3 separate regions of the Homo sapiens genome follow, and regions 1 and 2 are each linked to region 3. The links come from fine-mapping of genetic effects on gene expression. A gene starts in region 3. Each other region holds a variant in brackets. All regions are shown on one strand. Distances are from middle to middle. Region 1 holds the start of LOC124903286 (a long non-coding RNA gene). Region 2 holds the start of C14orf93 (chromosome 14 open reading frame 93). Region 3 holds the start of PSMB5 (proteasome 20S subunit beta 5).

What was found. PIP is the estimated chance that this variant, and not a neighbour inherited with it, causes the effect.
Region 1: its variant is fine-mapped to the expression of PSMB5 in subcutaneous fat (GTEx, PIP 0.98). The same link has a PIP of 0.9 or more in thyroid.
Region 2: its variant is fine-mapped to the expression of PSMB5 in transverse colon (GTEx, PIP 0.97).

Annotation. Positions count from the first base shown.
Region 1 is chr14:22,998,777-23,006,957 of GRCh38, forward strand. It overlaps C14orf93 (chromosome 14 open reading frame 93), which reads right to left. Exons shown (of 7, transcript NM_021944.4): 2 at 1-626. The coding sequence starts at 247. It overlaps LOC124903286 (a long non-coding RNA gene), which reads left to right and starts at 3,650. Exons shown (of 2, transcript XR_007064075.1): 1 at 3,650-4,607; 2 at 7,792-8,181. RefSeq lists an enhancer at 7,865-8,181. The variant A/G (reference allele first, on the strand shown) is at 4,974.
Region 2 is chr14:23,009,701-23,017,881 of GRCh38, forward strand. It overlaps C14orf93 (chromosome 14 open reading frame 93), which reads right to left and starts at 443. Exons shown (of 7, transcript NM_021944.4): 1 at 401-443. RefSeq lists a silencer at 432-781. The variant G/A (reference allele first, on the strand shown) is at 3,495.
Region 3 is chr14:23,030,481-23,038,661 of GRCh38, forward strand. PSMB5 (proteasome 20S subunit beta 5) reads right to left here and starts at 4,420. Exons shown (of 3, transcript NM_002797.5): 1 at 4,204-4,420; 2 at 2,888-3,194. The coding sequence starts at 4,401. RefSeq lists enhancers at 4,146-5,345, 4,146-4,815, 4,600-4,894.

The DNA.
Region 1 (8,181 bases), 32 kb before region 3:
CAAGACCCAGAGCAGCTTCAGCCAAACCCACTGCCTTATCGACCCGCTGGTAGATAACATGCAGGAGCTGCTCTGAGCTCTGAACAGCCAAGCCATGTCCAGTCACTGTGATGGGGGTGCTGGGAGGAGGATTCCCACCCTGGGAGCCTGTGTTGCCTCCATTAGTCTCACTCTTACAGGCGCAGCAGCAGCATCTGGCCTCGCTGCCACTGGGAGGGGAGAAGAGAATGGTGGCACTGAAGGACATGGCGGATGGGGCAGTAACAACCACGCTTACACTGCTGGGCCGCTCCAACAGGTAGGAAGCATCAACTTCTCTGGACTCACTTTCCTTTCTCAATGAGGATGGTCAGAGGAGCCCAGGCCCCAAGCTGTAGGGTCTGTGAAAGAAGAGTAAACAAGCCATGAAGAAGCACACAGTCCATGGCGGCCTCTCCTCGGCCTGCAGAAGGGAGACAGGTGCCTTCTATTTGCAGATCCTGTGCTCTCCTAGCACATCACAAATCAAGGCCTTCCTGATGAACGGTTTCAGACGGTAGAGAGCATTCCTTCTGCCCCCCAGCATGGAACCCCCGACTAGTGCAACCTAAGGAACAGGGAAGGGATTCAGAAGGACCTTCCGGCATCTGGAAAGATTAGAAGATTAAGGAAGAAAATGTAGATCTGTCTCCTCCTCCTCCTCACCATCTTTACTGTAATAATGGTACTGCATTTCATTGCTTTGACATTGTTCCTTAAGGTGTTCAGAACACTTCACATAAGTTACCTCATCTACTCAACAGCACTAGGAAACATATTACTCCAGGTCCAGAGAAGAGACATGTGGAGAAGTTATATGTCTTTTTCAAGGTCAGAGGAATAACAGCAGAATCCAGTTATTGCTACTTTCAATGTAGTGTTGTATTTTTTTTTAACTGATACCACTTTTTGTTGACATTAACAATCATGACAATCATGATTCTACCCTCTCTGTAATTTTCATACAAATGCATTCAGAGTAACACTCCTAAATAAGGAATACATCCATCACTGCAGCCCTCAGCATGTCACCAACTTCTCACTGTTATATTATATCATTAATGCTTTGGGGATGAGGGCAGGGAAATGAAATGAAAAGATCAGGGAATTGAGCTGGGGTAACCCAGGGCTGCACAGCCCCCTTTCCCACATAGTCGTGTACCTGGGCCATGAGCCTCTGTAATGGAAACTAGCTGTCCTGAATCTTCCAGCCAGGAGCCCAGAGAAATCACCCGTGGGGCCCCTTATCTTCATTTCTCAAGCTCCTTAAGGGTGGATCCAAAATTCAACAGGAATGTTTGAACAGCTATGCTGTCACTTTGCCTGCATGACCAGCCCCCATTAAAGGAGAAACCAGAATGTCAGTAATAAACCAAACTGCCTTTCTTTTAAATTACTGTAGTTAAGCAACTAAACTACTCCAGGAGAGAAAAAAAGGGGTAAAGAAGTTGATTTGTACCACTGAGAACACTCCCGGGAACTTAATAAATATTGTAATTTTCTAAATAATACTTGATGATAGAAAAAAAATCCTTCTGATGTGCCATGTCAAAACCTTAAGTATGTTTACAATTTCTCTGAGAGATGCATTTCTCTCTTACCCTGTAAATTAAAACATCACAATTAAAAGGAGAGGAGGAGCCGGGCATGGTGGCTCACGCTTGTAATCCCAGCACTGTGGAAGGCTGAGGTGGGCCGATCACCTGAGGTCAGGAGTTTGAGACCAGCCTGACTAACATGGTGAAACCCTGTCTCTACTAAAAATACAAAAATTAACCGGGCGTAGTGGCGGGCATCTGTAACCCCAGCTACTCGGGAGGTTGAGGCAGGAGAATCACTTGAACCCGGGAGGCAAAGGTTGCAGTGAGCCGAGATGGTGCCACTGCACTCCAGCCTGGCAACAGGGCGAGACTCCACCTCAAAAAAAAAAAAAAAAAAAAAAGAGTAGGAGGTTAAGAGAATTTTCTATATATTGAGGGTTTTCTTTTTTCTTTTTGAATAGGCAATCTCATTTCAGAAAGAGGCAATATCAATGCCTCTGAGGTACTAAAACATAAATCTGACAATGCATTTTAATTACATGTGGTTATTAAAGAATAGTCTTTAATTTGCTCTTTCCACCCTTTATATCGAAGAAATGGCTTTTTCTGTGCCAGATACTTACTTCTCGCAAAAGCTTAACTCAAATACATTTACAGCTTCCTTGTCATTATAGTCACTGGGAGGCACAGCTAAACCTGAAACTAAAGGTTAAACCAAATTAAAACTAAAGGTTAAAGGAAAGCACTAAGCACTTCTATGTCAATTTATAGATGAATCACTTATGTATTCTTTTCCTTCCTAAATAAGGGCCTACACTGCTCCTGCAGAGCTTTTTCTTTTTAATTCTTTATTTAACCTACATCATGCAGGGAGTTTGCTCTTAAACATAGATGCTGTGGGCAAAAGAATGTTTTGGTGATAATAAATAATAGTATTCAAATGCTTGCCAGCTGGGTTCAGTATTTGTAAAATCAGTAATTAAGATGCATCCGGCTGGGACACTGGCTGAGTTGTCTAACTCCTTTCTGGTACCAAACTCTCTTGCCTCACGCACTTACTCTTTCTTGCAAGAGGCTTTTACCCCTACCAGTGTTGAGCCTGCCTCAAGCTCTTCCCCTCTCTTTTATTTTTATTTATCATTTTTTTGAGACGGAGTCTCGCTCTGTTGCCCAGGCCAGAGTGCAATGGCAAGATCTCGGCTCACTGCAAGCTCTGCCTCCCAGGTTCAAGTGATTCTCCTGCCTCAGCCTCCCAAGTAGCTGGGATCACAGACACGTGCCACCACATATGGCTAATTTTTATATTTTTAGTAGAGACAGGGTTTCGCGCTGTTGGCCAGGCTGGTCTTGAACTCCTGACCTCAGGTGATCCACCCGCCTCAGCTTCCCAAAGTGTTGGGATTACAGGTGTGAGCCACTGCGCCCAGCTCCTTCTTCTTTAAATAGTCTTTCCTTGGTCGTCCTTCCTTGGTCATCTTTCCAAAACAGCACTGTACTGCAGGTTAAAAAAAAAAAAAAAAAAAAAAAAAAAAGGGCTGGGCGGTGGCTCACGCCTGTAATCCCAGCACTTTGGGAGGCCGAGGCCGGCGAATCACGAGGTCAGGAGATGGAGACCATCCTGGCTAACACAGTGAAACCCCGTCTCTACTAAAAATACAAACAAATTAGCCGGGCGTGGTGGCGGGCGACTGTAGTCCCAGCTACTCTGGAGGCTGAGGCAGGAGAATGGCGTGAACCCGGGAGGCGGAGCTTGCAGTGAGCCGAGATCGCACCACTGCACTCCAGCCTGGGCGACAGAGCGAGATTCCGTCTCAAAAAAAAAAAAAAAAGGGTGGCCGGGCGTGGTAGCTCACACCTGTAATCCCAATACTTTCGGAGGCTGAGGTGGGTGGATAACTTGACGTTAGGAGTTCTAGACCAGCCTGGCCAACATGGTGAAACCCTATCTCTACTAAAAATACAAAAAAATTGCCAGGCATGGTGATACTTGTCTGTAATCCCAGCTACTCAGGAGGCTGAGGGAGAAGAATTGCTTGAACCCAGGAGTCAGAGGTTGCAGTGAGCCGAGATCACGCCACTGCACTCCAGACTGGGTGATGGAACGAGACTCCATCTCAAAAAAAAAAAAAAAAAAATGAGGTTCTCCTCTGGCTGCACCATTTATGAGCTGTGTGAACATTAGTAAATTATTTCACTTTTCTGAGACCAAGTTTCTTCATCACTATCTACTTTGAGTGGTTTTTGTGAAGATTATACATAATATATGTAAGGCACCTATAGAGTGCTGGCACATGGTCAGTGCTCCACTAGTAACGGCTGGATGATATTATGGTTATTCCTGTAACATTTTGTGTTCCCAACCTGGACACCCACCCTGATTCCTTAATCTTTTTTTTTTTAAGAGGCGGGGTCTTGCTATGTTGCCCAGGTTGGTCTTCAACTCCTGGCCTCAAGCCATCCTCCTGCCTCAGCCTCCTGAGTAGCTGGGATCACAGGTGCGAGCCACCACCTTGATTCCTGATTCCCTAATTTTGAATAAAATGCAATGGCTTGAAATAGAATTTGGGGAAATTTGCCCCCAAATTTAATATTGAATTTCTAACAAACAACACATTCCTCAAGTCTATGAGGATGCATTTATAGATACAAAACCTTCTATGACGCAAATTAGAAAGGTAATTTAGTATTTGTAATTTACTTGCTATCATGACCTGGTCTCAGACTAAGGATAATATTTTATGCTAGTTTTTAATGCTAAATGTATTTTCCTATTGTGAGTTCAATTTGTTCCTCAATTGCTCTTCTGTTTTTCTACTTTGTATGTTACCATACTATGTCCATTTTAAAACATCACATTCAGGGCAACAAATAGGTGTTTTCCTGAATTAATTTGCCTATAAAAACTAGGTACAGTGTGGTCTAGCACAATGGGCATTCAAAGAATTCTTTTTTGGTTTCCATGGACACTATTGCTGACTTCATTTCCCAGCCTCTTGCTATAGTCTCTCACCTAAACTCTAAGATATGGAAAGATATTGGGATCAGCAGGTAATAAACGAGTATTTCACATTATATTTACTAACCAGGTAACTACTTAAGTGCTGGATAAATGACTCAAAACAAAACATTAATTTCATTAGCTGCATATACCCCCATTAAAGAAGGTGAGCTGGGCCAGGCACGTGGCTTACGCCTATAATCCCAGCACTTTGGGAGGCTGAGGTGGGCGGGTCACCTGAGGTCAGTTCGAGACCAGCCTGGCCAACATGGTGAAACCCTGTCTCTACTAAAGATACAAAAAACAAAACAAAAAAAAGTAGCCGCGCATGCTGGCGCGTGCCTGTAATCCCAGCTACTCAGGAGGCTGAGACAGGAGGATGGCTTGAACCCAGGAGGCAGAGGTTGCAGTGAGCC[A/G]AGATCACACCATTGCACACCAGCCTGGGAGACAGGGCGAGACTCCGGCTCAGAAAAAAAGAAGGTGAGCTGGTGAGTGGGGTGAGATATTTTTAGGCTAATATATTCATATATATATATATATATATATATATATATATATATATATATTTTTTTTTTTTTTTTTTTTTTTTTTTTTGAGACAGAGTCTCGCTCTGTCGCCCAGGCTAGAGTGTGGAGGCACGATCTTGGCTCACTGCAACCTCCACCTCCCAGGTTCAAGCAATTCTCCTGCCTTAGCCTCCAGAGTCGCTGGGACTACAGGCATGTGCCACCACTCCCAGGTAATTTTTGTATTTGTAGTAGAGATAGGGTTTCACCATATTGGCCAGGCTGCTCTTGAACTCCTGACCTTGTGATCCGCCCTCCTCAGCCTCCCAAAGTGCTGAGATTACAGGCGTGAGCCATCGTTCCCGGCCAAAATATATATATATATATTTGATACAGAGTCTCACTCTGTCGCCCAGGCTGGAGTGCAGTGGCACGATTTCGGCTCACTGCAACTTCTGCCTCCCAGGTTCAAGCGATTCTTCTGCCTCAGCCTCCCGAAGAGCTGGGATTACAGGTATGCACCACCACACCTGACTAATGAATGCTGACCTCAAGTGATCCGCCCACCTTGGCCTCCCAAAGTGCTGAGATTACAGGTGTGAGCCACTGTGCCCAGGCCCAAAAGTTTTTTATATGTAAGTCCATGTTAAAGGATGACTCACCAAAATGCATTGCACACTACTCAAATGAAAGGAAGACAAAGTCTCTACCTATAAGGCACTTAAAGTGTATTTCAGATGGGAATGTCTAAAGAATATGGGATGTTCTAAACATGGACTATCTAAAAAACAAATTGAGGCCAGGTGCAGTGGCTCAAACCTATAATCTCAGCACTTTGGGAGGCTGAGGCGGGTAGATCACCTGAGGTCAGGAGTTCGAGACCAGCCTGACCAACATGGAGAAACCCTGTCTCTACTAAAAATACAAAATTAGCTGGGTGTGGTGGCACATGCCTGTAATCCCAGCTACTCGGGAGGCTGAGGCAGGAGAATCACTTGAACCCGGGAGGTGGAGGTTGCAATGAGCCAAGATCGCACCACTGCACTCCAGCCTGGGCAACAAGAGTGAAACTCCGTCTCAAAAATAAATAAACAAACAAATAAATAACAAAGTGAAATACACACAAGTCCTAATAATATGGTATAGACTGAAAAATTTCTGAGGCGTTAGTTCAAAATAATGGAAACATTAACAAAATGAAATCATACTGAGAAAGAGTTCTTACAGAAGAAAAGCTTCCAGTTGAGCCTTGAGCAATGTATAGGATTAACTGATAGGGTAGTAAGACATTCTAGAGGAAAAAAAAAAAATTACAGGACTTAACAGGGTACATGTCAGAGGTCAGAGCAAAGGCGCTTATATAGTAAGATAAGGAGAATTGACAGAGTTATAGAGATGGGGTATAGAGATAATTGGTTAAAGACAACTGCAAGGTTATAAGCCTAAGAGTAACAGGATGGTACCACCACCACCACCAGAATGACAGAAATGAGGCAGTTGAGAGGAAATACCATGGCTGGGCATGGTGGCTCATGCCTGTAATCCCAGCACTTTGGGAGGAGGAGGATCGCTTGAGCCCAGGAGTTTGAGACCAACCTCGGCAGCATAGCAAGACCCAGTCTCTAAAAAATAAATAAATAAAAAGAGGAGACACCAGTATATTAGAGAAGAAGTGTATTTATTTAACATTTTAAATTTCAAATGATGGCAACATGTTTAAGTAGAAAGTCCTGAAAACAACTGACTAGGTCTAAAAAAGAGAAAAAGATCTTCAATCTTGGGATGCGTTGCCAACACAACATGACAGTAGATGTCACACTTAGGTTTGCAAAAAATATAAGCATTTGGGGTTCATTTCAGTATTGGTCTAATTTAAATAAATGTGAAACGAGCCTTAAAAATGTACTTTCCAGTACTTTTGGTATTTTTCATAAATATTTAGATAAAAAAGAAAGACAATTCATCTCCTTTAGACAGACAGTTCAGGGTAAGACTGTCCATAATTTTAACTATCCCTTTCCTCCCAAGTCACATTTTTGTTAGGACTAAATATATCATACTCTTGGCAGTTCCCTTGCTTGCTTTCTCCCCATTCTGAGTTTGAATTTTCTGCATGACTGAGTTCACCTCCAAACTATGAAAAATAAAAGTTTTCTCACTATTTAATAGATGTGTATGATATGGTATCACTCAGATGATATATGTTTTTATAATGGGTGCTTGACTCATTCAGGGTCATGCTAGCAATAGACTTCCTTAAATGTGATTACTGAAAGCATGGCAATTCATATCATAATCTTCATTTTAAGAAATAAATAAGGAAAACGGCCACTTAAAGCTCCTGCTGTGTTGGTCAGTCCTACTCCTCCACTTCAAGGTGCAAAATGGCTCACCTGTCAAAAGGTTCTCTCAAAACCTATTTTTATCAGAAATGAGCTCCTTATCACACAAGAGCAGCTAAGTAAATACCACAAAATACTATTTTCCCACATTTTAAAAGAGTGACTCGACTAATGGTCTGCAAAAAATCCAAGACCTTATTTTTAGGGGTAAAAAAGAGAGCTGTAGACCCAGAAGGCCGAATGCGGTCTTTAAAGGATTCCACGTAATCTGAAAATTCCACGTATATTTCTATAGCAGGATGAGAATTTTTAGCCCAGTATAGCACAGTCCTTTTTATTTACATTTGCTAAGATTACATTGGTAAGATTAATATTTCCGATTTCAGGTTTGCCTAAAGGACCCACTGCATTTATGGAGAAACTGAAAAATGAAAAAGTAGCTCCTAGAACTCGTGCCAGCGAGAACTTGGTAAATGTTAGTTGATTAAATATTAGTCAAGGATGACAAGGTGGACCCCAGGGAGGGCAGAACCGTTTCCGATGGGTCAGTGTGATTCAGCTACGGGAAAGGCGATCGCAGCGACGCGGGAAGCAGAGATCGGCGACTGCTCAAGAGGCCTCAGGGGACAGGGTGACTCGCCACTGTGCCCTACCATACAGTGCGCTCTGGGAGTCCCGGGTAAAGGGGGTCATTCCCGCGAGGGATGCGGAGAGCAGAGCGGCCGGAGGAGCGGCTAGGGATCTCGCCGGGTCACCGGGGAGGGTAGACTACGTAG
Region 2 (8,181 bases), 21 kb before region 3:
CAAATCTCTCTGCTTCCTTCGATGTTGCCTGTGGCAGAAATTTACATTATCCCTTCAGCCCGCTTAAAAAATTCTGTACTTCCCAAGCGGCTAAATTTTTAAAGTCCCTCAACCACAAAAATCTACCAGTTCTTAAAATGTGATTTAAAAAAAAGAAAAAAAAACTATAAATTTGGCCGGAAACGGTTGTACACGGCCATCCTGCTTCTCAACTTCTTGGTATATTTAAAACCTTGACCAGGAAAAAGAAAGAGGAAGAGAGACAGAAAAAGAAATGGGGGAAAGAGCAAATTCCCCTTAGCAACAGTTTCCTCACCCCAACACTGCTACAGATCTCTATTTTTAAAAAATTTGAAAACACACACAAGATTAAGGAGGAAAAAAAATGGAAAAAGGATACCCGAAGGTCGTATGGCTCTTTGTATTCGTGTGTGTGCAAAAAGGAGGACTCGCGGAGCCCGAGCCGGCAAGCCCCGCCCCTCCCCGGACGCCCTCCCGGATTGGCCGTCCGCGGCCGCGGGGCGCCCCGCCCGCAAGCACACGCGCCGCGCCCGAGGCGCCAACCCCGGAGTTGGGGGCGGGGGGGGCCCTGAGGGCCGCCGGACCCCCGACCCCCAACCTCGCCTGGACCTTGGCAGACCCCTTTCCCACCTCTCTCCCTTTCACTTTCTCACCGTCCTGTCACCCTTTCCCATCTTTTTTTCTCAGTGAAACAAGGCCCAGTCACCAGCATAACAATCCAGTGAGCGACCTCCGGACACTTTGTTAAATTGAGTGAACTAGTCAGTAACATTCTAGACTGCAATTAAACATCAGGGACTTGGTGCGTGGGCCCTACTCCGGTTTCCAGGTGAAATGTCTCTGGGTCACGTGTGTTGCTTAACACCCCCACGTTTAAATGAACATTCACGTATGGAACATCTTTCTGAAGTCTTACACTTCAGCCCGAGCTCCCAGTTTATCTACCTGGCTCAGACCACATTCTCAAAACTAAAGTGGCTCCTCTTTATTTCCAGGAAGACAGCTGGTATACCTGGATTTTAAGCCACCCATAATCTGGTCCCACCCACCTATTTGTTATTTATTTATTTATTTAGACAGAGTCTCGCTCTGTCACCCAGGCTGGAGTGCAGTGGTATGATCTTCGCTCACTGTAAACTCCGCCCCTCCGCCCCCACCCCCACCCCCACCCCCACCCCGCCCAAGCGATTCTCCTGCCTCAGCCTCCCAAGAAGCTGGGACTACAGGCGTGCGCCACTGCACCCAGCTAATTTTTTTTGTTTTTGGTAGAGACAGGGTTTCGCCATGTTGGCCAGGCTGGTCCTGAACTCCTGACTTGAGGTGATGTGCCCACCCTGCCTTTTTTTTTTTTTTTTCAGTGATGTGATCTCGGCTCACTGCAACCCCCACCTCCGAGGCTCAAGCGATTCTCCTGCCTCAGCCTCCCGAGTAGCTGGGATTACGGATATATGCCACCACGCCCGGCTATTTTTTTTTTTTAAGTAGTGACGGGGTTTCACCATGTTGGCCAGGCTGGTTTTGAGCTCTTGACCTCAAGTTATCCTCCCGCCTTGGCCTCCCAAAGTGCTGGGATTACAGGCGTGAGCCACCGCGCCTGGGCACATATTTGTTCTTAGTTCCCTCTACGCTCGTCTTATCAATCTTGTATTATTCCTTTACTCAAGTGGCTTTTTTTTTTTTTTTTGGCCTGAATTATGCGTCTCCCCTTCCCTGACTGGTCAATTTTTATCCATTCTCTTTCAGCACAGACTGCTTACTTCCTTCTCTCCGCTCCCATCAACATGAATTTCATGTGTACTCCAGTTAGCGGCACGTAACTCTACCTTGATTCACATATTTTAGTAATTTCACTCCAGTAAACTGTTTGAGGTCAGTGATCATATCTTAAAATTGTTTTTCCATCCAGGAACTGTTTGATTCTTACTGCAGTAGCTGGCATAATTGTAGATATTTAGTAAACACTGACCAAAAAAATCATTTATTTATTTATATTTATTTTTGAGCTGGAGTCTCGCTCTGTCGCCCAGGCTGGAGTGCAGTGGCCCGATCTCGGCTCACTGCAAGCTCCACCTCCCAGGTTCACGCCATTCTCCTGCCCCAGCCTCCCGAGTAGCTGGGACTACAGGCGCCCGCCACCAAGTCTGGCTAATTTTTTGTATTTTTAGTAGAGACGGGGTTTCACCGTGTTAGTCAGGATGGTCTGGATCTCTTGACCTCGTGATCCACCAGCCTCAGCCTCCCAAAGTGCTGGGATTACAGGCGTGAGCCACCATGCCGGGCCAAAAATCATTTATGATCAAATAAGTGAATTTCTTTTCTAGCTAAAACACAGATTCTGAAACTCACATCTCACAAGAATTTCCCTTCTATAGTAAGTAGCAATTTGTGAACACTTATTGTGCAGGAAGTAACTGTTCTGAACACTTTATGTGCATCAATTTAGGTATTATTATTATTATTTTTTTTTTTTATTTTTTATTTTTCGAGACAGAGTCTTTCTCTGTCGTCCAGGCAGGCGGATCACGAGGTCAGGAGTTCGAGACCAGACTGACCAACATGGTGAAACCCCGTCTCTGCTAAAAATACAAAAAGTTAGCTGGGCATCGTAATGCGCACCTGTAGTCCCAGCTACTTGGGAGGCTGAGGTAGGAGAATTGCTTGAACCCAGGAGGCAGAGGTTGCAGTGAGCCAAGATTGCGCCACTGCACTCCAGGCTGGAGGACAGAGCGAGACTCCATCTCAAAAAATAATAATAATAAAATAATAAGGCCGGGTGTGGTGGCTCACGCCTGTAATCCCAGCACTTTGGGAGGATGAGGCAGGCAAATCACCTGAGGTCAGGAGTTCAAGACCAGCCTGGCCAACATGGTGAAACCCCGTCTCTACTAAAAATACAAAAATTGGCTGGGCTTGGTGGCGCACGCCTGTAATCCCAGCTACTTGGGACGTTGAGGCAGGAGAATCCCTTTAACCTGGGAGGCAGAAGTTGCAGTGAGCTGAGATCGTGCCACTTAAAAATAAATTTTTTTTGGCCGGGCGCAGTGGCTCATGTCTGTAATTCCAGTACTTTGGGAGACCGAAGCGGCACGGCAGATCCCTTGAGCTCAGGAGTTGGAAACCAGCCTGGGCAACATAGTGAAACCCCTGTCTCTCCTAAAAATACACAAATTAGCTGGGTGTAGTGGTGCATGCCTGTAGTCCCAGCTACTCCGGAGGCTGAGGCACATTAATCACTTGAACCCGGAAGGCGGAGATTGCAGTGAGCCGAGATGGTGCCACTGCACTCCAGCCTGGGTGACAGAGCAAGACTTCGTCTCAAAAATAATAATAATCTAGGGACATGACAACTACATGCAAAGTATGATCTGGGTCAGAAGAAAAAATGCTATCCTGGACACTAACAGGATACTTGGGAAAATTAAATATGGCCTGGATATTAGATAATTTGATTGTAGCCAAGTTAGATTAGTGGC[G/A]TCACCATTTTACAAGAAACAGGTTCAGAGAGTACTTACTACAAATTTACATAGCTAATAGGCGACAGACCTGAACCCCCAAGCCAGCTGTCTTATCAAGCTGTTCAACATACACACACACACTCACACACACATTTTGACACTGGCCATCAGTCAGGCCTCGTCCATAAAATTGTTGGTTCTCAACGTCCAGGGCATTGTTGGTAGGATCTAGTTCTCAGCAGAAAGGCCTAATGCCTTCAGTGTTGTTTTCACCCTAGCAGCACCCTAGCTTAGGCAATAGATTTGCCTTTTACCTGAAAATGAGGTGCTAGTGTTTACTTTCTCAAGGGTTATAGACTTTCTGTGTTTCTTTTTTCTCTTTTTAGAGACAGGACCTCACTATGTTGCCTCGGCTGGTCTCAAACTCTTGGACTCAAGGGATCCTCTTGCCTCAGCCTCCCCAATAGCTGGTGCATGCTACTGTGCCCAACATGTGTTTCTTTTTATATGCTTTTCATTTAAACTTCTAAAAAATAACACAAGCCTAACTGGGCGTGGTGGCTCATGCCTGTAATCTGAGCACTTTGGAAGGCCAAGGCAGGTGGATCATTTGAGGTCAGGAGTTCGAGACCAGCTTGATCAACATGGTGAAACCCGTCTCTACTAAAATACAAAATTTAGCCGGGTGTAGTGGGGTGCACCTGTAATCCCAGCTACTTAGCCAGGTGTGGTGGTGTGCACCTGTAATCCCAGCTACTCTGTAGGGTGAGGCAGGAGAATCGCTTGAACCTGGGAGGCAGAGGTTGCAGTGAGCCGAGATTCCACCACTGCCCTCCAGCCTGGGTGACAAAGTGGGATTCTGTCTCAAAAAATAAATAAATAAATAAATAAAGCCATGAGATCACTAGGAAAATATTAAATATTAACTCTTGATGAGAATGTACTAGGACGTCTCATATTCTCAAATGCACAGGTGATATATTTTCTTTTTTTTTTTTTTTTGAGATGGAGTTTTGCTCTTGTTGCCCAGGCTGGAGTGCAGTGGCACAATCTCGGCTCACTGAAACCCCCGCCTCCTGGGTTCAAGCAATTCTCCTGCCTCAGCCTCCAGAGTAGCTGGGACTACAGGAGGCTGCCACCACACCCGGTTAACTTTTTGTATTTTTAGTAGAAACAGGTTTCACCATGTTGGCCAGGCTGGTCTTGAACTCCTGACCTCAGATCATCTACCTGCCTCGGCCTCCCAAAGTGCTGGGATTACAGGCATGAGCCACTGTGCCCAGCCACAGGTGATATATTTTCAAAAATGTTAGGATAAAGGGAAAACAGAAATGTTAATAATTATTAAAATCAACAGTTATTGAGAGTTTACTTGGTGCCAGGCACTCTGTATCTCATTTAATCAATTCTGTGAGATAAGTACTATTATACTCCCTCTTTTACTGAGGAGAAAACTGAGACTTAGAGGGGGATTGGTAAGTTACCTAGAGGTTGTTGAGCTAATTAACTCAATGGTGGTCACTAGTGGAATCATAGCTTGAACCCAGGTGTGCTCACTACAGAACCTGTGCTCTTGACTATTCATTAGTCTCTGTCTAAATTGAAACCCACTCTGCCTTGCTGTTACCCTCTTTTGCTCTCGTTCTGTCCATGAAAGACAAGCTGTCTTCACTTTGATGATCAATGGAATGTTCATAACTGCCATACAGTCTCCTGGGATATATTTTTAATTATGAGTCCATTACTACAAAGGTCAAAGTTAAGTTGGAAAAGCCATGTCTTTTTTTTTTTTTTGAGACAGAGTTTCACTCTTGTTGCCCAAGCTGGAGTACAATAGCACGATCTCGACTCACCGCAACCTCTGCCTCCCGGGTTCAAGCAATTCTCCTGCCTCAGCCTCCCAAGTAGCTGGGATTACAGGCATGCACCACCACACCCAGCTAATTTTGTATTTTTAGTAGAGACAGGGTTTCTCCATATTGGTCAGGCTGGTCTCGACCTCGACCAACCTCAGGTGATCCGCCCGCCTCGGCTTCCCAAAGTCCTGGGATTACAGGCCTGAGCCACCGCGCCTGGACTTTTTTTTTTTCTTTTTCTTTTTGAGACAGGATCACTTGCTTTGTCACCCAGGCTGGAGTGCAGTGGTGCAATCATGGCTCACTGCAGCCTCTACCTCCCGAGTAGCTCAGACTACAAGTGTGTGCCAATATGCCCAGCTAATTTTTAAAATATTTTGTAGAGATGGAGTCTAACTACGTTGCCCAGGCTGTTCTCGAACTCCTGGGCTCAAGTGATCCTCCCACCTTGGCCTCCCAAACAATTACAAGCATGAGCCACAGTGCCCGGCCTAAATTTCTATTTTCCCCATGGTCATAGGAGAATCTTTGAGTAGAAGGTTTGAGTAATGAACTTGTGTGCTGTTAGGTAATGAGAATAGGGAGAATATACCATTTTCACCTAAAAATTACAATTTTCACTCTAAAACATCTGAAATTTCAAATGTTAGACTTTACAGATGACTTGTCGATTGAGGAAAATCACTAATTTGGCTTTGAATCAAGCAGATCTTTTATTTTAGGCTGTTTCTGTTCAATGAGATCTGAAAGAGGCCTCCCCTACAGTGAAATGTAACTTCCCCTAGAGTGAGGCCGGGAAGCTGTTTCCGACAGTCATTCGTTAACACATGGGAGAGCATCTTAGAATAGGAGTGGAAGGAAATCCTACAGCTAGCTGAGAATATGTCCTAAGAGACACTGGAGAGGAAAGTATGAGAGAGCTGAGATTCAGAGTTGAGAAAGGGTACAGAAAGGTGGAAGGTAATGCAAAGGAAACAACAGAAAAGGAAGACGGCAGGCAGCAGAGAACAGCCCTCAAGGAAGAGAGAAGGGGTTTGTATTGTAGCAGGAGTGAAAGTAGATTCGATTTTAAAGAAAAAAGATCTGAATTTGATTGTTAGATGCAAAAATTTGATAAAAATTGTAGAAGCAACTGGAACATCTTAAGATCAGTTAAAAAAAAAGTGTCAAAAACCAAAACAAAACAAATTAAAATGCTATAACAGGCCAGGCACGGTGGCTTACTCACGTCTGTAATCCCAGCAGTTTGGGAGGCTGAAGTGGGCGAATCACCTGAGGTCAGGAGTTGGAGGCCAGCCTGGCCAATATGGTGAAACCCCGTCTCTACTAAAAATACAAAAATTAGCCGGGCTTCGTGGTGTGTGCCTGTAATCCCAGCTACTTGGGAGGCTGAGGCAAGAGAATCACTTGAACCTGGGAGGCAGAGGTTGCAGCAAGCCAAGATCGTGCCATTGCACTCCAGCCTGGGCGACAAGAGCCAAACTCTGTCTAAACAAACAAACAAACATGAAACTGTGAATGATATTTTATTTAGTCATTTTTGTTTACAATTGAAACTTTGGGAATTCAAAAGTAACATTCTTGCCTTTGAGCTTCTTTCAACCTACAAGAAAAGAAACAATCATCACAAAACTTTCAAATACACACACTCATCTTAAAACCTAATGATTTTGTGAAATTGTACCCCTTATGTTTTCTATTTGTTTGTTTGTTGTGAGATAGAGTCTCTTGCCCACCCTGGAGTGCAGTGGCATGGTCTTGGCTCTGCAACCTCTCCCTCCCAGGTTCAAGCAATTCTCCTGCCTCAGCCTCCTGAGTAGCTGGGATTACAGGCACCCGTCACCACGCCCAACTAATTTTTTTTTTTTTTTAGACTGAATCTTGCTCTGTCACCCAGGCTGGAGTGCAGTGGCACTATCTCGGCTTACTGCAACCTCTGTCTCCTGGGTTCAAGCGATTCTCCTGCCTCAGCCTCCTGAGTAGCTGGGATTACAGGCATGCACCACCAGTCCCGGCTAATTTTTGCATTTTTAGTAGAGACGGGGTCTCACCATGTTGGCCAGGCTGGTCTCGAACTCCTGGCCTCAGATGATCCACCCACCTCGGCCTCCCAAAGTGCTGGGATTATAGGTGCCTTTATGGTTTTTCTCCTTGGCAACCAGTTACTGTGAAAATCAAGTACTGTGAAGATACAGGGTACATCCACAAGTGTCCCAAGACCGAGAACAAGCTCATTTGCAATGCGTGGGACAGGATTCTGCAGCACTGCACCTAAGTGCTGTGCTCCTTTGCCATGTGGGTGTGTGTGAATTTTTCGTGGTGTTTCTACTGGAAGAGTCAGGACATTATTTGCAATCTGATTTATCTGTTTTCTTGTGATTAGGTTCAGGTTAAGCTTTTTTTTTTTTTTCTTTTTTGATACAGGGTCTTGCTCTGTCACCCAGGCTGGAGTGCAGTGATGTAATCACAGTTCACTGCAGCCTTGACATCCAAAGCTCATGCCATCCTCCTGCCTCAGCCTCCTGAGTAGCTTGGGACTACAAGTGCATGCCACCATGCCCTGCTAATTTTAAAAAGTTATTACTTGGTAGAGACAAGATCCCCCTATGTTGCCCCGGCTGGTCTCAAACTCCTGGGCTCAAGGGATCCTCCTGCCTTGGCCTCCCCAAATGCTGGAATTATAGGCATGAGCCACCACATCAGGGCCAAGGTTAAACATTTTTAGCGAGAATATTACTTAGGTAATTTTATATACTTCTTATTGTATCACATCAAGAGGCATATAATGTCAGTTTGTTCTATTATTGGTGACTGCAAGTTTATTCATGTCTGCTAGACGTCTCTGTTGT
Region 3 (8,181 bases):
TCCGTCTCAATAAAAAAAAAAAAAGGTTATTTATCTTATTCAGCCTTGGGTTAACTAGTCATCCTTTGGTATATGAAGGGGATTTGTCCCAAGACCCCTGCATATACCAAAATCTATGCACACTCAAGTCCCAAAGTTGGCCCTGCAGAACCTGCATATATGAAAAGTTGGCCAGATATGGTGGCTCACGCCACCCAGCACTTTGGGAGGCTGAGGCAGGTGGATCACCCGAGGTCAGGAGTTTAAGACCAGCCTGGCCAACATGGTGAAACCCTGTCTCTACTAAAAATACAAAAGTTAGCTGGCAGGGTGGCGGGTGTCTGTAATCCCAGCTACTCGGGAGGCTGAGGCAGGAGATCACTTGAACCCAGGAGGTGGAGGTTGCAATGAACTGAGATCGCGCCATTGCACTCCAGCATGGGTGACAAGAGGAAAACTCCATCTCAAAAATAAATAAATAAATAAATAAATAAATTGGTCCTCTGTATATTTGGGTTTCAAATTCTGGGAATGTGTATTTTCAATCAGAATTAGGTTGAAAAATACCTGCGTATAAGTGGACCTGAGTGATTCAAACCCATGTTGCTCAAGGGCCAACTGTAATATGAGGCAAGGGGCTGACTCACAATGAATGGGACAGGGTCATCAGGAAGGCCTCTTGAAGAAGGCACTGTTTAAATGATGCTCAGTCTCCCTGGATTTTCCTTGTTACCCGGTCCCTGTACTCTTTTACACTGTTTCCATCACCTAGAACAAATCCGCCAGCTAAAGGTTCAAAGCAACATTTCCAAAATGCTTCCCTGGATCACGTAAAATGTATGGAACTGTCTTTTCCCACCTTTCAGAGAAAAGCATCTCAATTTCCAAAGTAACAAAGTGAGCTCCTCTCTCACATCCGGTTTTTAATTTCCTTTCATCCTCCATTGGGTAGTAAGTGGATACTCCCTACAGCCCTTTCTATTCTCGTTTGAAAGCAAGTGAAAAAGTGGTAGGTACCCTATAATTGTTCTATAAGATAACTAGGTATTTAGTAAGCAGGTAAATGAATGAAGCAAAATCAAAAGGAGGAAAGAATAATTATTTTTAAGCATATGGAAGGGAAAATTAGAAGGTGACTAGCTATACTCCAACTTTACTAAACGGGCAATTCAAAACTGGCTGATGAGGAAATGACATTAAATACAAAGTTGAACTGTCTGGCAAGTTTCTTAAATGCTGGAAAGGAAAAACAGGCTAAGGAACTTATTTTCAGAGATGATAGAACCGGACCTAGCATGATTGTAAGGGTGATTATAACCAGCAAAGAAATAAAAGAAATGAGCCCAGGACTAGGCGCAATGGCTCACTCCTGTAATCTCAACACTTTGGCAGGCTGAGGTGGGCAGATCACCTGAGGTCAGGAGTTCAAGACCAGCCTGGCCAACATGGTGAAACCCTGTCTCTACTAAAAATACAAAAATTAGACGCGCATGGTGGCATATGCCTGTAGTCTCAGCTACATGGAAGGTTGAGGCAGGAGAATCACTTGAACCTGGGAGGCAGAGATTGCAGTGAGCTGAGATCCCGCCGCTGCACTCCAGTCGGGGCGACAGAGCGAGACTCCATCCCCACCCCCTCAAAAAAGAGAGGAGCCCAAAAGGCCCCTTCTAGGCCAAAGACTCTCTAAAGAAAAAAAGAGAAGAGGCCGGGTGCAGCGGCTCACGCCTTTAATCCTGGCACTTTGGGAGGCTGAGGCGGGTGAATCACCTGAGGTCAGGATTTCGAGACCAGCCTGGCCAACATGGTGAAACCCCATCTCTACTAAAAATATAAAATTAGCTGGGCATGCTGGTGGGCGCTTGTAATCCCAGGTACTTGGGAGACTGCGGCAGGAGAATCACTTGAACCCAGGAGGCAGAGGTTGTAGTGAGCTGAAACAATGCCATTACACGCCAGACTGGACGATCGGAGTGAAACTTTGCATCTCAAAAAAAGAAAAAAAGAAAAAAACAGAAGAGAAATGACTAACTTTTGAGGGACAACCATATATTAGAGTCCAATACAGTAGCCACAAGCCACACATGGTCAATGAACACTTGAAATAGCACTACTGCCACATGTGGGATTCAACGAATTCTTTTTTTTGTTTTTTTTTTTGAGACAGAGTCTCGCTCTGTTGCCCAGGCTGGAGTGCAGTGGCACCATCTCGACTCACTGCAAGCTCCGCCTCCTGGGTTCACACTATTCTCCTGCCTCAGCCTCCTGAGTAGCTGGGACTACAGGCGCCTGCCACCACGCCTGGCTAATTTTTTGTATTTTTGGTAGAGACGGGGTTTCACCTTGTTAGCCAGGATGGTCTCGATCTCCTGACCTCGTGATCCACTGTCTCAGCCTCCCAAAGTGCTGGGATTACAGGAGTGAGCCACCACGCCCGGCCTTCAACGAATTCTTAAATTCTTTTTTTTGAGACAGAGTCTCACTCTGTCGCCCAGGCTGGAGTGCAGTGGCGCGATCTCTGCTCACTGCAACATCCACCTCCTGGGTTCAAGCAATTCTCATGCCTCAGCCTCCTGAGCAGCTGGTATTACAGGCGCCCGCCACCACGCCGGGCTAATTTTTGTATTTTTAGTAGAGATGGGGTTTCGCCATGTTGGCCAGGCTGGTCTTGAATTCCTGAACCTGGGGGCGGAGGCTGCAGTGAGCTGAGATCATGCCACTGCACTCCAGCCTGAGCGACAGAATGAGACACAGTCTAAAAAAACAGGAAAAAAAAAAAGAGAGAAGGAAGGGCTAAGGACCTAATTACACTTCTTCAGCATTGACACCAAGCCCTTTAATTCATCTGTCCATCCAACCCCTCCTCACTGTAGTGTCAGCCCAAGGATCATGTGGTTGCAGCTTAACTCACCAGGGCCTCTCTTATCCCAGCCACAGATCATGGTGCCCATGGACAGCCCCATGCCTTTGTACTGATACACCATGTTGGCAAGCAGTTTGGAGGCAGCTGCTACAGAGATGCGTTCCTTATTTCGAAGCTCATAGATTCGACATTGCCGAGCCAACAGCCGTTCCCAGAAGCTGCAATCCGCTGCGCCCCCAGCCATGGTGCCTAGCAGGTATGGGTTGATCTCTATCACCTTCTTCACCGTCTGGGAGGCAATGTAAGCACCCGCTGTAGCCCTGGAGTCAGCTGCAACTATGACTCCATGGCGGAACTGTTAAGATCAGAGGAAAACACAAAACAGGCCACATAAGACCACAAAAACACTCCTACATACTTCTTTTTGCATCAATCCAAACCCAGCACATCTCTTTCTCCGTCCTTTTATACTTCACAGTATACTTCTATACTTCACCATATATTAATGTCACCCGAGCTTCACATCAATCCCTTGACATGGATATAACCCATATTAAATTCATTTTATAGGATGGGCGTGGTGGCTCACTCCTGTAACCCAGGCATTTTGGGAGACCAAGGCGGGAGGACCGCTTGAGGCCAGGTGCTGGAGACCAGCCTGGGCAACACAGGGAGATCCATCTCTACAAAAAGTAAAAAAACTTAGCCTGTCGTGGTGGTGTGTGCCTATAGTGTCAGCTACTCTGGAGGCTGAGGCGCTGGAGCCACTGCACTCCAGCCTGAGCGACAGCGAAAAGCCCTGTTTCAAAAAAAAAAAAAAAACAAATCATTTTATAGATGAGGAAACAGGTTCAATGAAATCAAATGATTTCTCAATCTAGAGCTAGTTATTGCAGAGCTGGGCAAGGAACCCCAAATGTCTGATTCTTAGTACAATGCTTACCCTCACCACGCTTCCCCTTCATGCCAGTTTCAGTTACCCCTGCCTTGAGGGGCCGCCCAGTTTCCAAAACTTTGGTAAACGTTTACAATAGCCTTCCCTCGGCCAAGATTCATTGTTGTTGCGGCCTTTCCCAGCTAGAAGATCCTGAACAGCAGCAACCTGGGGTCGCCTAGGAATCAACCCAAGAGGCCTCACCTTCCTCCCCCGACTTACCCCCGGCCCCACCGCCACCCTTTCCAACCAGAGCAAAGACAGGGGCCTCCTGGGCCAATGAGACAGCAAAACTGCTGCGGTCCGAACGAGAGGACCCAGCCTCCGCCTGGGTTGGTGGCCAAGGCCACCGCAAACTCCGGTCAGGCTGGGAGGCCAGGCAAGTCGCGGGCGTTCAGTACTCAGCCTGGCAAGGGGGCTGGCTCCACACCTTGAAGGCCAGGGTGGTTGTTCCATGAAGCATTTCGATTCCTGGCTCTTCTGGGACACCCCAGCCTGGCGCGGCCAGGCTCAGACCATCACTGAGACTCCCTGGACCTAGATCCAGCAGATCTGCACGACCCCCAAGTCCGAAAAACCCGCGCTGGTTCACCGGTAGCGGTCTCTCCAACACGCTGGCAAGCGCCATGTCTAGTGTGGGCAGAAAGAACTAATTCTGAGAACGCCTAGCAAAGATAGGCCGGGCAACGCCTCGCCGTCACAGCTTCACTTCCTATTAAATCTATTCCGGAATGGAGCCATTTTGACTGCTGGCAAGCACGCCTCCAAAAAGAAGAGCCAGATGCGAAAGACCATTTTCACTGAAGGGGGTCGGGGAAATAGATGGCTTCACTAACCTTAAATTCTAAAAGGACGTACCTGCCATCTTGGCTTTGGTCATGCAAGTAGTCCTGGATCAGAATAACCTCAAAATCACAGGAAGTGACTGAAAACGTCCATGTTGCGTAAGGGAAGTGAGGTCGGCCATCTTTGAGAAGGGCGTGACTGGTTGAAAATCGGTTCTGAACCCTTAGCGGTGAGTCCTCCCACTCCAGCCTGGTGTCCAAGCAACAGGTTACATCGCTGCTGCTTCAGCACCTTGTTAACGCGCCTGAGGTTGCCATCTTGTTTAAGGGCACCTTCTAAAATTGGGTAAAATAATGATCCATTCTGAGGCCATTTCCCTATATTAGTTAAACCACAGCAATTAGTGGTAAAACAACGCAACAAAATAAAAGTGCTATACCTCTTGTTGTCAGTCGCCATACAGCAACCCTTCTTTAACAGTAACCGGTTATTAATATCCAATATTCGTTCTCTTGACTCCTACCTTCTGGTGGAAATTCGAATAAGTAATGAATTGCCTAAAAGGCAGATGGAAGAAGAAAAAGCAAAGGGTCCAGTTAATCCACAAACTAGATTCTCAGTTCAGACCTGAATAAGTGTCAGTAGTAATTTACCATCTCAGAGACGGGAGGACGGTTGAGACTGCATAAATATGTACCAAGAGATTCTCTAACTTCAACTTGCTAAGATGATGCCTTTTATTCAGGAACATACTATATTTCATTGCCTCTTCCTCCCTCCACCCACCTTCATTTTTCAAATCTTTTGGGAACTATAACAAACCGGGAAGTGTGCATATGTATGAAATGTTGCCTCCTGCTTTATGGTTCTATGAAGTCAGTCTCTGGCCTTCCTTGTTGGATTCTAGCAGCAACATCTATCAACACCGAAATTCCACTTTCCTCTGATGCCCAGTTCGGCCCCATCTTTCCCCCAGCAGACTCTGCATATGCTGTATTGTTTTTGTTTGTTTGTTTGTTTGTTTTTTGAGACCAAGTCTTGCTGTGTCCCCCAGGCTGGAACACAGTGGCACGATCTCTGCTCACTGCAACCTCTGCTTCCCAGGTTCAAGCGATTCTCCTGCCTCAGCCTCCCGAGTAGCTGGGATTACAGGCGCCTGCCTCCACAACAGGCTAATTTGTGTGTGTGTGTGTGTGTGTGTGTGTGTGTGTGTGTGTGTGTGTGTTTAGTAGAGACGGGGTTTCACCGTGTTAGCCAGGATGGTCTTGATCTCCTGACCTCGTGATCCACCCACCTCGGCCTCCCAAAGTGCTGGGATTACAGGCATGAGCCACCGTGCCCGGCCTCACGCCTGGCTAATTTTTGTATTTTTAGTAGAGATGGGGTTTCACCATATTGGCCACGCTGGTCTCAAACTCTTGACCTCAGGTGATCCGCTTGTTAGCCAGGATGGTCTTGATCTCCTGACCTCGTGATCCACCCACCTCGGCCTCCCAAAGTGCTGGGATTACAGGCATGAGCCACCGTGCCCGGCCTCACGCCTGGCTAATTTTTGTATTTTTAGTAGAGATGGGGTTTCACCATATTGGCCACGCTGGTCTCAAACTCTTGACCTCAGGTGATCCGCTTGCCCCGGCCTCCCAAAGTGCTGGGATTACAGGTGTGAACCACTGCGCCTGGCCTATGCTGTATTTTTAATGCTGAAATTGGCAACCCTTTCCAAGCCCAATCATCAGAATAGAATTAAACAGGAGATCTTTGTGTTTCACACTTGGATGATGTGGAAAATGCGGAGTGCGTCTGTTTACTGAGCATATATTATTTTGCAGTCACCCCTGCAGTGCAACTAGTCTTTCTGCCTCCTTCCAGTGGTTTTTCACTCTGCCACTGATAGCATGTGTACCTCTCTTAAGGCCCTTTTACATTTTACCTGGTTAGAAATTACATTTATCTCCTACCGGATTGTGAGCTTTTAAATACAAGTACTTACTATTCATTTCTGTACCCACTGTATGCTTAATACATATTTGCCAAATGAACACCTGAAAGAATGACAGCAGTGGTCTTCTAGTCAAAAAGGCTTGAAGTCCTTGCTTATCTTTTACAGCTTTTTTCTTTCCTTCATATCCAGTTAGTTGCATGGTCCTGTTGATTATTTCCACTTCAGTGTTTCTCACATTCTTTTTCATTACAACTGATACCACCTTTGGCTTCTTATGTCCTCATTCTGGAATTGCTGAAATATTCTCCTTATTTTATTTTATTTTTTTGAGATGGAGTCTCGCTCTGTCGCCCAGGCTGGAGTGCAGTGGCGCAATATTGGCTCACTGCAACCTCTACCTCCTGGATTCAAGTGATTCTCCTGCCGTAGCCTCCCAAGTAGCTGGAACTACAGGTGTGTGCCACCATACCTGGATAATTTTTTTTTTTTTTGAGACGGAGTCTCGCTCTGTCACCCAGGCTGGAGTGCAGTGGCACAATCTTGGCTCACTGCAAGCTCCGCCTCCCGGGTTCACGCCATTCTCCTGCCTCAGCCTCCCGAGTAACTAGGACTACAGGCGCCCGCCACCATGCCCGCTAATTTTTGTTTTTTTTTGTATTTTTTAGTAGAGATGGGGTTTCACCATGTTAGCCAGGATGAATTGCCTGGATAATTTTTTTTTTTTTTGTATTTTAAGTAGAGATGGGATTTTGCCATATTGGCCAGGCTGGTCTTGAACTCCCAACCTCAGACGATCTGTCTGCCTCAGTCTTCCAAAGTGCTGGGATTACAGGTGTGAACCACCATGCCTGGCCTTCTCCTAACTGATTTATGGGTCTAAATTGTCACTCTCTAATTCATTCTGCACAGCATCAGATTCGTTTTCCTAAAACACCATTTTTTTTTTTAATTGAGTTTTGCTATTGTCGCCCAGGCTGGAGTGCAGTGGCACGATCTCTGCTCACTGCAACCTCTGCCTCCCAGGTTCAAGCAATTCTCCTGCGTCAGCCTCCCGAGTAGCTGGGATTACAGGCGTGCGCCACCAGGCCCAGTTAATTTTTTTTCTTCTATTTTTAGTAGAGACAAGATTTTGCCATGTTGGGCGGGCTGGTCTTGAACTCCTGACCTCAGGTGATCTGCCCGCCACAGCCTCCCAAAGTGCTGGGATTACAGGCGTGAGCCGCTGCGCCCAGCCTAAAACATCATCTCGATCTTAACACTCACCTGCTTAAAAATGTTCTGTGGGCCAGGCGCGGTGGCTCACGCCTGTAATCCCAGCACTTTGGGAGGCCGAGGTGGGCGGATCACGAGGTCAGGAAATCAAGATCATCCTGACTAACACGGTGAAACCCTGTCACTACTAAAAATACAGAAAATTAGCCAGGCGTAGTGGCACCGCCTGTAGTCCTAGCTACTCTAGAGGCTGAGGCAGGAGAATTGCTTGAACCCGGGAGGCAGAGGTTACAGTGAGCAGAGATTGTGCCACTGCACTCCAGTCTGGGCGACAGAGTGAGACTCCGTCTCAAAAAAAAAAAAAAAAAAAAAAAAGTTTTGTGAATTCAAGCTCCTCAGCATAGCATTCAAGGCCTTCCATAATCCATTCCCAACTTACCTCACATGCGTTCTCTGCTCCAGGGTCCC